Linked DNA regions of Homo sapiens: region 1 is linked to region 2. Evidence: fine-mapped expression QTL. A gene starts in region 2. The other region holds a variant in brackets. All regions are shown on one strand. Distances are between the middles of the regions. Region 1 overlaps USP13 (ubiquitin specific peptidase 13). Region 2 holds the start of USP13 (ubiquitin specific peptidase 13).

What was found. PIP is the estimated chance that this variant, and not a neighbour inherited with it, causes the effect.
Region 1: its variant is the best candidate, but not a certain one, in a credible set for the expression of USP13 in thyroid (GTEx, PIP 0.67).

The regions. Positions count from the first base shown.
Region 1 is chr3:179,670,493-179,675,872 of GRCh38, forward strand. The region is part of intron 1 of USP13 (ubiquitin specific peptidase 13); the gene reads left to right. Among named protein-coding and RNA genes, the nearest start is that of USP13, 20 kb to the left of the region's middle. The variant G/A (reference allele first, on the strand shown) is at 3,282.
Region 2 is chr3:179,650,045-179,655,424 of GRCh38, forward strand. USP13 (ubiquitin specific peptidase 13) reads left to right here and starts at 2,996. Exons shown (of 21, transcript NM_003940.3): 1 at 2,996-3,349. The coding sequence starts at 3,182. It also overlaps the pseudogene H3P13. RefSeq lists silencers at 2,728-2,807, 2,818-3,157 and an enhancer at 2,826-3,469.

The DNA.
Region 1 (5,380 bases), 20 kb after region 2:
CCAACTAGAGTACAGTGTTCCCGATTAGTTTCATTTTTCCCAGTTGTAATCACAGTCTCATTTGCCTCCCTGAGGTTACACGCCGTATCACCTCTATTTTACTTGTTCCTGAATTTCCTCAGCTACAAATCTCAAGATATTCTCTTATTAATATCAAATTATTGGCCGGGCGCAGTGGCTCATGCCTGTAATCCAGCAATTTTTTTATTTTTTTATTTTTTTTGAGACAGATTCTCGCTCTGTCACCTAGGCTGGAGTGCAGTGGCATGATCTCCGCTCACTGCAACCTCTGCCTCCTGGGTTCTAGCGATTCTTCTGCCTCAGCCTCCCGAGTAGCTGGGATTACAGGTGTGTGCCACCATGCCTGGCTAATTTTTGTATTTTTGGTAGAGACGGGGTTTTACCATGTTGGCCAAGCTGGCTCGAACTCCTGACCTCAGGTGATCCGTCTGTCTCGGCCTCACAAAGTGCTGGGATTACAGGTGTGAACCACCATGTCCGGCCAATCCCAGCACTTTCGGAGGCCAAGATGGGTGGATCACTTGAGATCTGGAGTTCGAGACCAGTCTGGACAACATGTCGAAACCCCGTCTCTACTAAAAATACAAAAATTAACCAGGTGTGGTGGTGGGCACCAGTAATCCCAGCTACTTGGGAGGCTGAGGCAGGAGAAACCCTTGAACCCGGGAGGCAGAGATGGCTCCACTGCATTTCTGGGCAACAGAGTGAGACTCTCTCAAAGATAAAAAATTAAAATCTCAAGTTATTGCCACCATGCTTTACTTTGAGTAGTGGGAATATACAGCCCCCATAAAGCTGTGTGGTTGGGAAGCCAGGTTTGAGAAAAGGGAGCATATCTAAATACATTCAGTTAAAAAACTTTTATTTATATTTTAATTAAAAAATGAATCTATGTTCCTGAAGAGAAATTTAAAAATACCAGAAGAAAACAGGAAGAAAAAAAATTCCCACATTGTCTCCCCATGCTGAGATAACAACATACGCCAGGAAGAGTGTGCATGTCATGTATATTATAACATCATACACAGTGTTTTGTTACCTGCTTTCTTAGCCCAAAAATACTATGTACTTATTTTTCTATCAGTAAATACTCATCCACAAGTCAATTTTAAATAGCTGAAGAGTGTTACATTTCATGGAGGTACCATAAATTATTTGGCAAATCTGTTCTTGGCCATTTGGGTTACTTCTTTTTATAATTACAAGCAGCTCATTTGGTTAATTTTTTTTTCCTGTCCGCTCTTTTTTGAGTCGATGTTCTAGAAAATACGGTGTTCTGGTCTTCTTGGCCTTCCTTTTCCAAGGGTGTGTGAGTCACCGTCTTCCCGCGGTGTTAGTATGTGATTTGTCCTGGCGTGGATTTGTTGTGACTCCATCTACCTACATCATGTTTCTCTTTGCAGCAATGACCGCTTGTTTTCCACAGGAGACACTGTTCTGTAGTTATAAAAACAAGTGTTACGCAGCGACTGTTTCCTGAGCGCGTTGCTCACATAAGCTCATGCTCCCTTCCTGTCTTCCAGTGGGAAGGCTGGTTGCCAAGAAAACATCATCATAAACAAAGTTCTCTGAACACCTACCGATTGACAAAGTAGTGTATTTTTATTTAAAATGACTATTCACTTGCTACTCTGAAACATGTTGCAATCTTGACCTTTATATTTGCCACCGTTTTAACATTCTTTTAAACGGCAGGCAATATAAAATCAGTGACTTTGTCTTTGATGTTATTTCTGAATAGTACATAGAGGGATACAATACAAAGTAGCAAATGAATGGCTAAGTATATACTGTATGTATATTGAAATGCATTGAAGACAGGATTTTAACAATACATGGGGCTTCTAATGCTGCTCCTTTCTTTTTCTTTTTTTTTCTTTTTTTTTTTTTGAGACAGTGTGTCGCTCTGTTGCCAGTCTGGAGTGCAATGGCGCGATCTTGGCTCACTGCAATCTCTGCCTGCCGGGTTCAAGCAATTCCCCTGCCTCAGCCTACTGAATAGCTGGGACTACAGGTGTGTACCACCATGCGCGGCTAATTTTTTTGTTAGCTGGGACTACAGGTGTGTACCACTATTCCCGGCTAATTTCTTGGTATTTTAGTAGAGATGGGGTTTCACCATGTTGGCCAGGATGGGCTTGATCTCCTGACCTGCCTCCCAAAGTGATGGGATTACAGGCGTGAGCCTCTGAACCCGGCCAGTGCTGCTCCTTTCTTACCGTTTGATTATGGGGCTGGAGAAGTTGTCAAGGGAAATCATTATAGAGCCCTGTGCAGTATTTCTTGACTTTCTTCTGATTTTGGATGTCAAAGTCTTGCATCTTGGTCAAATTTCTGGTTAGTGCATCATAAAAATGATCATTAGAATCCTATTTAGCTTAGGATTGTGCACAGAACTGCACATTGGTCATTCTGGGCTGGGTGTCCTCTGAGCACCGGAGGCAGGTAGGATCCAAGGTGGGACGGTGGTGCAGAGAAGGCAGCCACTTTCCTGAAGAACCATGTGAGACTGGCTTGGTTACAGCAGGTGGGAGAGCTGGGGCAGTAGGGTTCAAGTGTCCAGGCTGCTAAGAGTGACTTCAGCCAAACAAACCTGAAAAGCTAGAATTTCTGCTGGTGCCTCAGGCTGTTTTTCTATGCGTGGCCATGAGTTTTATTTTGAGAATTCCCATTGTTTAGTCGTGCCAGAGACTTTAAGTGGAAGCTGTATTATGATGCATTTTAAATTCAGATCAGAAGGGCACTGAGGAATAGTTTGAGAGAGAGAGACCCAATAACAAATAGTGGAGACAAAAACTATCATTCATCCTACAAAAGTTTGTTCAATCCTGCCCTGTAGCAGGTACTGTTTTTGGGATTCAGTGGTGAATATGACACAGTTTTCCTGCCCCCCCTGCCCTGTACCAGGTACTATTTTTAGGATTCAGCAATAAATGATACAATTTTCCTGCCTTCAAGGAGCAAATGTGTATTTCAGCTTCTAAAGGTACTGGCGGCAAACTCAAGGAAGCCTGGGTTTCTCATAGCGATAGATTTCAATGAGCATGACACTGATTGTGAAATGAAAGCAGATTTAGGGTCAAGGACTGTCAGAAGAGGGGCTGAGCAGGGAGATGTGGGAGTAGTTCCTGGGCAGAGACTGGCAGAGTGTGGCGTTTGGGAAGCGCCTGCAGTGAGGAGGCATTGATGGGGCTGCTGTGAAGGCTGCAGGCCTGACCTTGTGTCCTGAAAGTCTTTTAGATAATGCTTTCCTGGCGGGT[G/A]AGACACTCTTAGACTTGGGCCGAGTTCACCTAGCCCTAGACAAGTGCTACCTAAAGTGTGTCAGCTGACTGGGCTGAGAGATGAGTACAACACTAAGAGTAGTGTTTCGAGATTTCTTTCTTTCGTTTTTTTCTTGAGACGGAGTTTCGCTCTTGTTGCCCAGGCTGGAGTGCAATGGCGCGATCTTGGCTCACCGCAACCTCCGCCTTTCGGGTTCAAACGATTCTCCTGCCTCAGCCTTCCTGAGTAGCTGGGATTACAGGCATGTGCCACTACGCCCGGCTAATTTTGTATTTTTAGTAGAGGCGGGGTTTCTCCATGTTGGCCAGGCTGGTCTCGAACTCCTGACCTCAGGTGATTCACCCGCCTCAGCCTCCCAAAGTGTTGGGATTACAGGTGTGAGCCACTGCGCCCGGCCTGTTTTGAGATTTGTATAGCAACTTGACATTGCAGCCACAGCCAAGTGTGTGACCAGTGGATCTGTTTGCCCAGGACATAGACCAGTTTGGGTTTTGTGGAACTTAAGGTGTGTGGTGAGTAAGACCATATCTGGCTGGAGCTTTGAACTAGTCATGTGCAGTGGGAACATGTGTCTTTCCTTAACAAATGAAAACAACACAAAACAAAAAACAAAAACAACCTCATCCATCGTGACAATAGTTGGAGAAGCACCACTGTAGACCAAGCAAGACTCATTACACACAATTCATAACTTTGTCTTTTTAAATAATGTTGCAGTATTTTCTTGTGCTTATATGTCACAGTTTCTTAACTCCTCTATTTGGGGCCATTGCTACATTATTTTATTATAGATACTGCATGTGTGAATATTTTTGCACAAATTAGTTTTTTTTTTTAATTCTTCTCTCGGGCCTGTACCCAGAGGGGAAATACTGTGCCAAAGGGTCACTGTTTTTTTGCTCTCTAGAAAGGCTGAGCCGATTTATATTGTAGGAGAGGATATACGGGTTTTCTCTGTGGCTTCAGGCTGTGCAATTTTAACAGTTTTTGCTGGTTTATGAGGCATGTACCTGTGCCTTGAGATTGTTTTAATATGCCTACTTAAGGGGGTTGTGAGGATGTGATGGTTTGATTTTAATATTTTCTCACATTGGAAACTAAATGGTTTTTTAAAAAATTCTTTCCTAGCACTTTGGGAAGCCGAGGCAGGTGGATCGATCACAAGGTCAGGAGATTGAGACCATCCTGGCTAACACGGTGAAACCCTGTCTCTACTAAAAATACAAAAAATTAGCCAGGCATGGTGGCGGGCGCCTGTAGTCCCAGCTACTCGGGAGGCTGAGGCAGGAGAATGGTGTGAACCCGGGAGGTGGAGTTTGCAGTGAGCAGAGATCACGCCACTGTACTCCAGCCTGGGCGACAGAGTGACACTCCATCTCAAAAAAAAAAAAAAATTTCTTAAGTTGAACTTGAATGTTGACATTCCCTTTTAAAAGTGGGCTGAATATATGAGTCTGCTCTTTTTAGTTTTGTAATTGCTTATTTCTTGGATCTATTTGGACTTTATTACCATGTTTCGTATAAGTTGTAGATCTAGGTTAATTTTCTTCTATACTGATGTTAATTTTCCTAGTAACTTTTATTGGTGATTCTTTTCTGCATTTTTGTATCTCCTGTGATTTGACATATATTAAATAGTTATCTTAGAATGAATATATTTGTGGGGCCTCCATTCTTATGCTACCATTAATATTTTAAAAAAATTTACCCAATGCTATATGAGTTTTATCTGTAACCTATTTTATTATTATTATTATTATTATTATTATTGAGATGGAGTCTCGCTCTGTTGCCCAAGCTGGAGTGCAGTGGCATGATCTCAGCTCACTGCAACCCCTGCCTCCCGGGTTCAAGGAATTCTCCTGCCTCAGCCTCCTGAGTAGCTGGGACTAGAAGCGTGTTCCGCCACGCCTGGCTAATTTTTGTGTTTTTAGTAGCAATGAGGTTTCACCATGTTGTCCAGGCTGGTCTGGAACTCCTGGCCTCAAGTGATCTGCCCATCTTGGCCTCCCAAAGTGCTGGGATTACAGGCTTGAGCCACTGTGCCCAGCCTGTAATCTATTTTAATTTAATAGAG
Region 2 (5,380 bases):
TTTAACTAGGGACAGGGTTTCACCATCTTGGCCAGGCTGGTCTTGAACTCCTGACCTCGTGATCCACCCGCCTCGGCCTCCCAAAGTGCTGGGATTGCTTCCTGGGTTCTTTACCACCAATTGATTTTTGGGCAGTCAGCTTTGTACCAGCCATGGTATAGTGACCTCCTTACTTAGACCCGTTCTTCTGCTGGAGCGTGGCGAGTGACAGGCGGCGCTGGTGTTGGAGAGCGATGGCTGAGTTTTAATTAACTTTTAAAGCAATACTTGAGGCCGGGCGCGGTGGCTCACGCCTGTAATCCCAGCACTTTGGGAGGCCGAGGTGGGAGACCAGACTGGCCAACGTGACGAAACCCCGTCTCTACAAAAAAAAAAAAAAAAAAACAACAAAAAATTAGCCTGGCGTGGTGGCGTGCATCTGTGGTCCCAGCTACTTGGAAGGCTGAGGCGGGAGAATCGCTTCAACCCAGGAGGCGGAGGTTGCAGTGAGCTGAGAGCGCGCCATTGCAGTCCAGCCTGGGCGACAGAGGGAGACTCCATCTCCAAAAAGAAAGGGGGGGAAAAAGCAATACTTGCACATAATACAAATGGAATCATACAGAAAGCTACAAAGTGGTAGTGTAGTAATCTGTTTTCACGCTGCTGACAAAGACATACCTGAGACCGGGCAATTTACAAAAGAAAGTTTTATTGGACTTACAGTTCCATGTGGCTGGGGAGGCTTCACAATCATGGTGGAAGGTGAAAGGCACGTCTCAGATGGAGGCAGACAACTGGAGAGAGCTTGTGCAGGGAGACTCACGTTTGTAAAACCATCAGCTCTTGTGAGACTTATTCACTATCACAAGAACAGCACGAGAAAGACCTGCCCCCATGATTCAATTACCACCTACTGGGTCTCTCCCACAACACGTGGGAATTCAAGATGAGATTTGGGTGGGGACACAGCCCTACCATACCAGGTAGTAAGTTCTCCCTTAACCTCAGGCTTTCAGTTCTTCTCCACAGAGCCTGACTAGTTTCTTGTGTATTGCTCTAGAGACATCCTAAAGCCAAACAAGTGGGCATGCATACACATATGTATATTTTAAGGGGCTACATTAAAAATATTTACTACAAGTACAACCAACTGGAATGAAGGCCCATGGTATATAGGATGTGCCAAAATGCCTACTGCATATTATCAGCCTTGCATGTATTCCTTGCTTTTATACACTAGTTTGCTTAAATTGCTTTTATCATCTAGTAATAATTTGGAGATTGTTCCACATCAGCACACGTAGAGCAACTTCATTCTTTTCAATGGTACTGTATTTTAACCACTTTCTACAGAAGGATCTTTAGGTTTTCCCCAGACGTTTGTTACTCGAAACAGTGCTCTAACAAATATCTTTACACAGCCTTAATTTATCTGTTGCATAAATGTCTAGACAAGGAAATGCTGGGGAAAACAGTATGCACATATAAAGTTATGACTGGTATTATTACATTTCCTTCCAAAGAGGTTTATCGTTTTTATCCCCACCAACAATGTAATGAGGGTCTACTTCCCAAACCCATGCTAACTCAATATATCTTTACCAGCCCAAAGGATGAAAAACAGTGTCTCACTGATTTAATTTGTATTTAATCTAAGATTAAATTTTAAGTTTTGTAAAACCAAGTTTATCTCTGTAATTGGAGAAAACATCATCCATTAACGTGAAAGGTAATAAGCTGATGAGACTAAATTCAAAGCAAAAGCTCGCTGAGAGGATCTGCCCAATGAGGAAGATGACAGTAGTGTCTGATTTTTTGCTCAGTGCCACCTCCTCCTTTTCCAACAGATAGCATTTGGGAGTGCTGAGTTATAAGAAAGTGTGGTGCGCTCGAGGCTTGCTTGAGGGTATGGAAATCTTGAGATAGGTCTGGAGAACCAGGGAGAGTTAAAAGAGAAAAAAAGTAAGAAAAAAAAAAGAACTTAAGGACTATCTGATCTGAGAGAGGCTTACAAAAATTAGCGTTTTGGTTCACTATTTCTCGCTATTTCTGCATTTCATTAACTGGCAGGGATCACTGGATACTCTGTCATGAATACATATGTTGGGTGTAGTTAGAGAACCTCAATGTCATTGAACCCGTCTTGTGGGTTTTTTGGAGAGAATGAGAGTATGCTGGGAGACATGCTCTGCTTGCAAATGATCAACCCCCGAGGCCAACCCCATTCATCATTTATTTTGAGGAACTGATGATCAAGACAGGAATATGTATGCCTGCCTACAAAATCCTCAAATCAGGCCACTGAATGTTCGACATGAGAACTTTGAATCACATAGAAGATACTCCAAAGGCAGAGAAAAATAGAAAGCCTTCCGACGCCCTGAAAAAATCTTGACCATCCCTGACTTCCCCCAATATGTAAGAAAACCTGTATTATTATTACACACACACTCCCACACACACCCCGCCCTCCCCCACACACACACCCTCTATCCTCACTCGATCTTATTCTATTCGCTCTATTTTTGAGCCTTGGATGTTAAAGTAAGGAACGAAGCTTAGTGGGGAAGCACTGAAGTGCATGGCGCAAATTTAGATTTAAGCCTCACGTTAGATTTCAGATTTGCACATCGAGTCCCGCCCCTATCCAATCCGGGGACGTCACCGCCCTAGTCTTCGGCTGTTTTAAAAGCAAGCGGTTTTTAAAACCCCCAATCCTGCTCTTTGTGTTGGCCTCCTCGGAGTTGCCCCTCTGCAAGCCAACAATTCGGGATAGAAAACACCTCCGTGGTGTTTTCCCGGGGCCCTCCCGCGCCGCGTTCGGCCGCCAGCCCGCTCGAGCTCCCGCGCCAACGCCTCAGGGGTTCGCCCTCCGCCCCCCGCCGCCGCGCCCGGCCCACGCGCAGGGCCCCTCTCCAGCGCCCCCTCCCCGGCACGCTGCGGCTGGCGCTCCCCAGCCCCGCCTGACGCTGCAGCTGGGCCGGAGACTCGCCATTGGATTAAAAATAGCGTCGCCAGTCCGCCCCAAGCCCGCGGTGCCCGCTCCCGCCCCGCAGCCCGCTCTCCCCGCCCGCCCCGGCTCGGCCGGCTGCCGTTGCCCGCGCAGCCCGCCCGTCAGCCCGCTCGCTGGCGCCGCCGCCGCCGGCAGACCCCGCGCTCCGGCTCCGGCTCGGCTCGCTCGGCTCCGGTGCGCGCCGAGGCCATGCAGCGCCGGGGCGCCCTGTTCGGCATGCCGGGCGGCAGCGGAGGCAGGAAGATGGCTGCAGGAGACATCGGCGAGCTGCTAGTGCCCCACATGCCCACGATCCGCGTGCCCAGGTCCGGCGACAGGGTCTACAAGAACGAGTGCGCCTTCTCCTACGACTCTCCCGTAAGTGAGGCGCCTCGGGGGAGGGTCGCGGGGCCGGCGGCCTGCGGCACGTGAAGCCGGGGGAGAAGATGCGCAGTGGCGGCCGGGACCTCTTCTCTTCCTCCGGGCGGCAGAGTTGGCTCAGGAACACTGCAGTTCGGCAGACACTTAGTGAGCGCCCCAGGGCTGCTGCAGCCGAGGACTGGCTCGTGCTGGTGGTTTTGCTCCGCCAGCCTCCCCAGGCTGGAAGGGCCCGATTCCCAGCAGCTTGCACACAGCCCCGCCGCCGTTTAAAGATAGATGAAATACAAGAGTTCCCTGTTCCGAACTGCACGTTGCAGATCGTTTGCGTCCTCCGCGGGGCAGAGCGCAGGGCGGGTAGGTGGACGGGATGATCCCCCCACACCCCGGGACACACACAGCCCTTCTTTTTCTGGGACCACTTGCTTTGCTCAGGGATCCCCACTTCTGGACAATTCTGATTTGCTCTCTGAGCTTTTCTTCCACCAGTTCCCATTTCACCCCACTCCTTTTCTTGTCTTTAGAATGTCAGGGCCAGGCGCGGTGGCTCACGTCTGAAATCCTAGCACTTTTTAAGAGGCGGAGGCGGGCGGATCGTTTGAGGTCAGGAGTTCGAGACCAGCCTGGCTAATATGGCGAAACCCCATCTCTACTAAAAAAGAACCCCAAAATTAGCCGGGCGCGGTGGCGGGAGCCTGTAGTCCCAGCTACTCGGGAGGCTGAGGCTTGAGAATCGCTTGAACCGGGAAGGAGGAGGCTGTAGTGGGCCGAGATCGCGCCACTGCCCTCCAGCCTGGGCGACAGAGCGAGACTCCGTCTCAAAAAAAAAAAAAAAAAAATGTCAGACGAAACCTTCCGGTGCCTCCACTCGGGCAGCAGAAATAGGGGATCTACTGGATTGCGATGGTTTTCTTAAGCCTTCCCCACCTTGCCCTTCTAAATGAGTCACTTGGACTGACATGCGCAAGTATAAATTATTAAAAGTTCAATCCCGAGTCGTGACCTCGGAGAATGAGGAGGAAGCTGAGAGGGATCGCCGCCTTCCACCCGGGGCGGTTGGTGGTGGTTTTCACCTGGTTCTATGTGAATGTGTGAGAAGCAGCAGGAGGGTGAATGTCCCTTTCAAAAGTCAAAATGGGCTTCAAAGTGACTCAGCTGTCTGGCGTTTATCATGTCTTTTTGAGGACCAGGTTATTTTTATCCACCCACTTTAGATCTCATATGTCACCCGGCAGATCTCAATGCATTGGGAGGCGCATGGATTGGATGGACCGAGGCAGGTCTCGCAATGGTCTAATGTATTTTATTCATAGCATGTGGACTATTGTCAGAGGGGAAAAGAAAAGTCCAAATGAGCGGCAACATTTCCAAAGTTTCCTTTATTATCTGTGGGTTGATTTTGGCTGGCTTCAAAGCACTTTTGCTCGACACACACTGGAGTATCAGAGTTAGTATCCTCTCTGTGACATTTAGTTTTTTTATTTATGGTAACTCCATATCATTTGAGGGATGAAACCTAACTTAATTTTTGATTGTTTACTTTTTTTTTCTTTCGAAAAGATCCACAGAGTGGAGTGTGACAATCGGCAGTCCTTTTTTAGGATGTTATCCATAAATTATTTGAAAATGCCATTTTCAGATTGTATGGCCAGTGTTGGGCAGTTCCCACTAATAGCTTCTAAAGGTGGAGAGGGATGATGGTCCTAACTTAAGCAATTGACAGATTGTTACCTCCAGGAAGAAGAAAGTGGCCTAAGTTTTTTAGGATAGCACAACATGGAAAGTGGGTCAAATGACTTTCCCCATGTTTTGATTTGGGCTCTTCTTCAAGTTCTGCTTACAAACTTTGCTCTTGGAAGTTTTTGCTGCATAATGCAGTGGATAACAGGTGTGGGAAAAAAGGCTGATTGTTTTAATTCATTTCCACAAATAGTTATTGGGAGCTTACTGTGTGTGTTTCTAGAATGTTACTATTCTAGAAACATCTCGTCCAGTGTAGACTGATGATTGCAATCATATCACAGCAGTTCC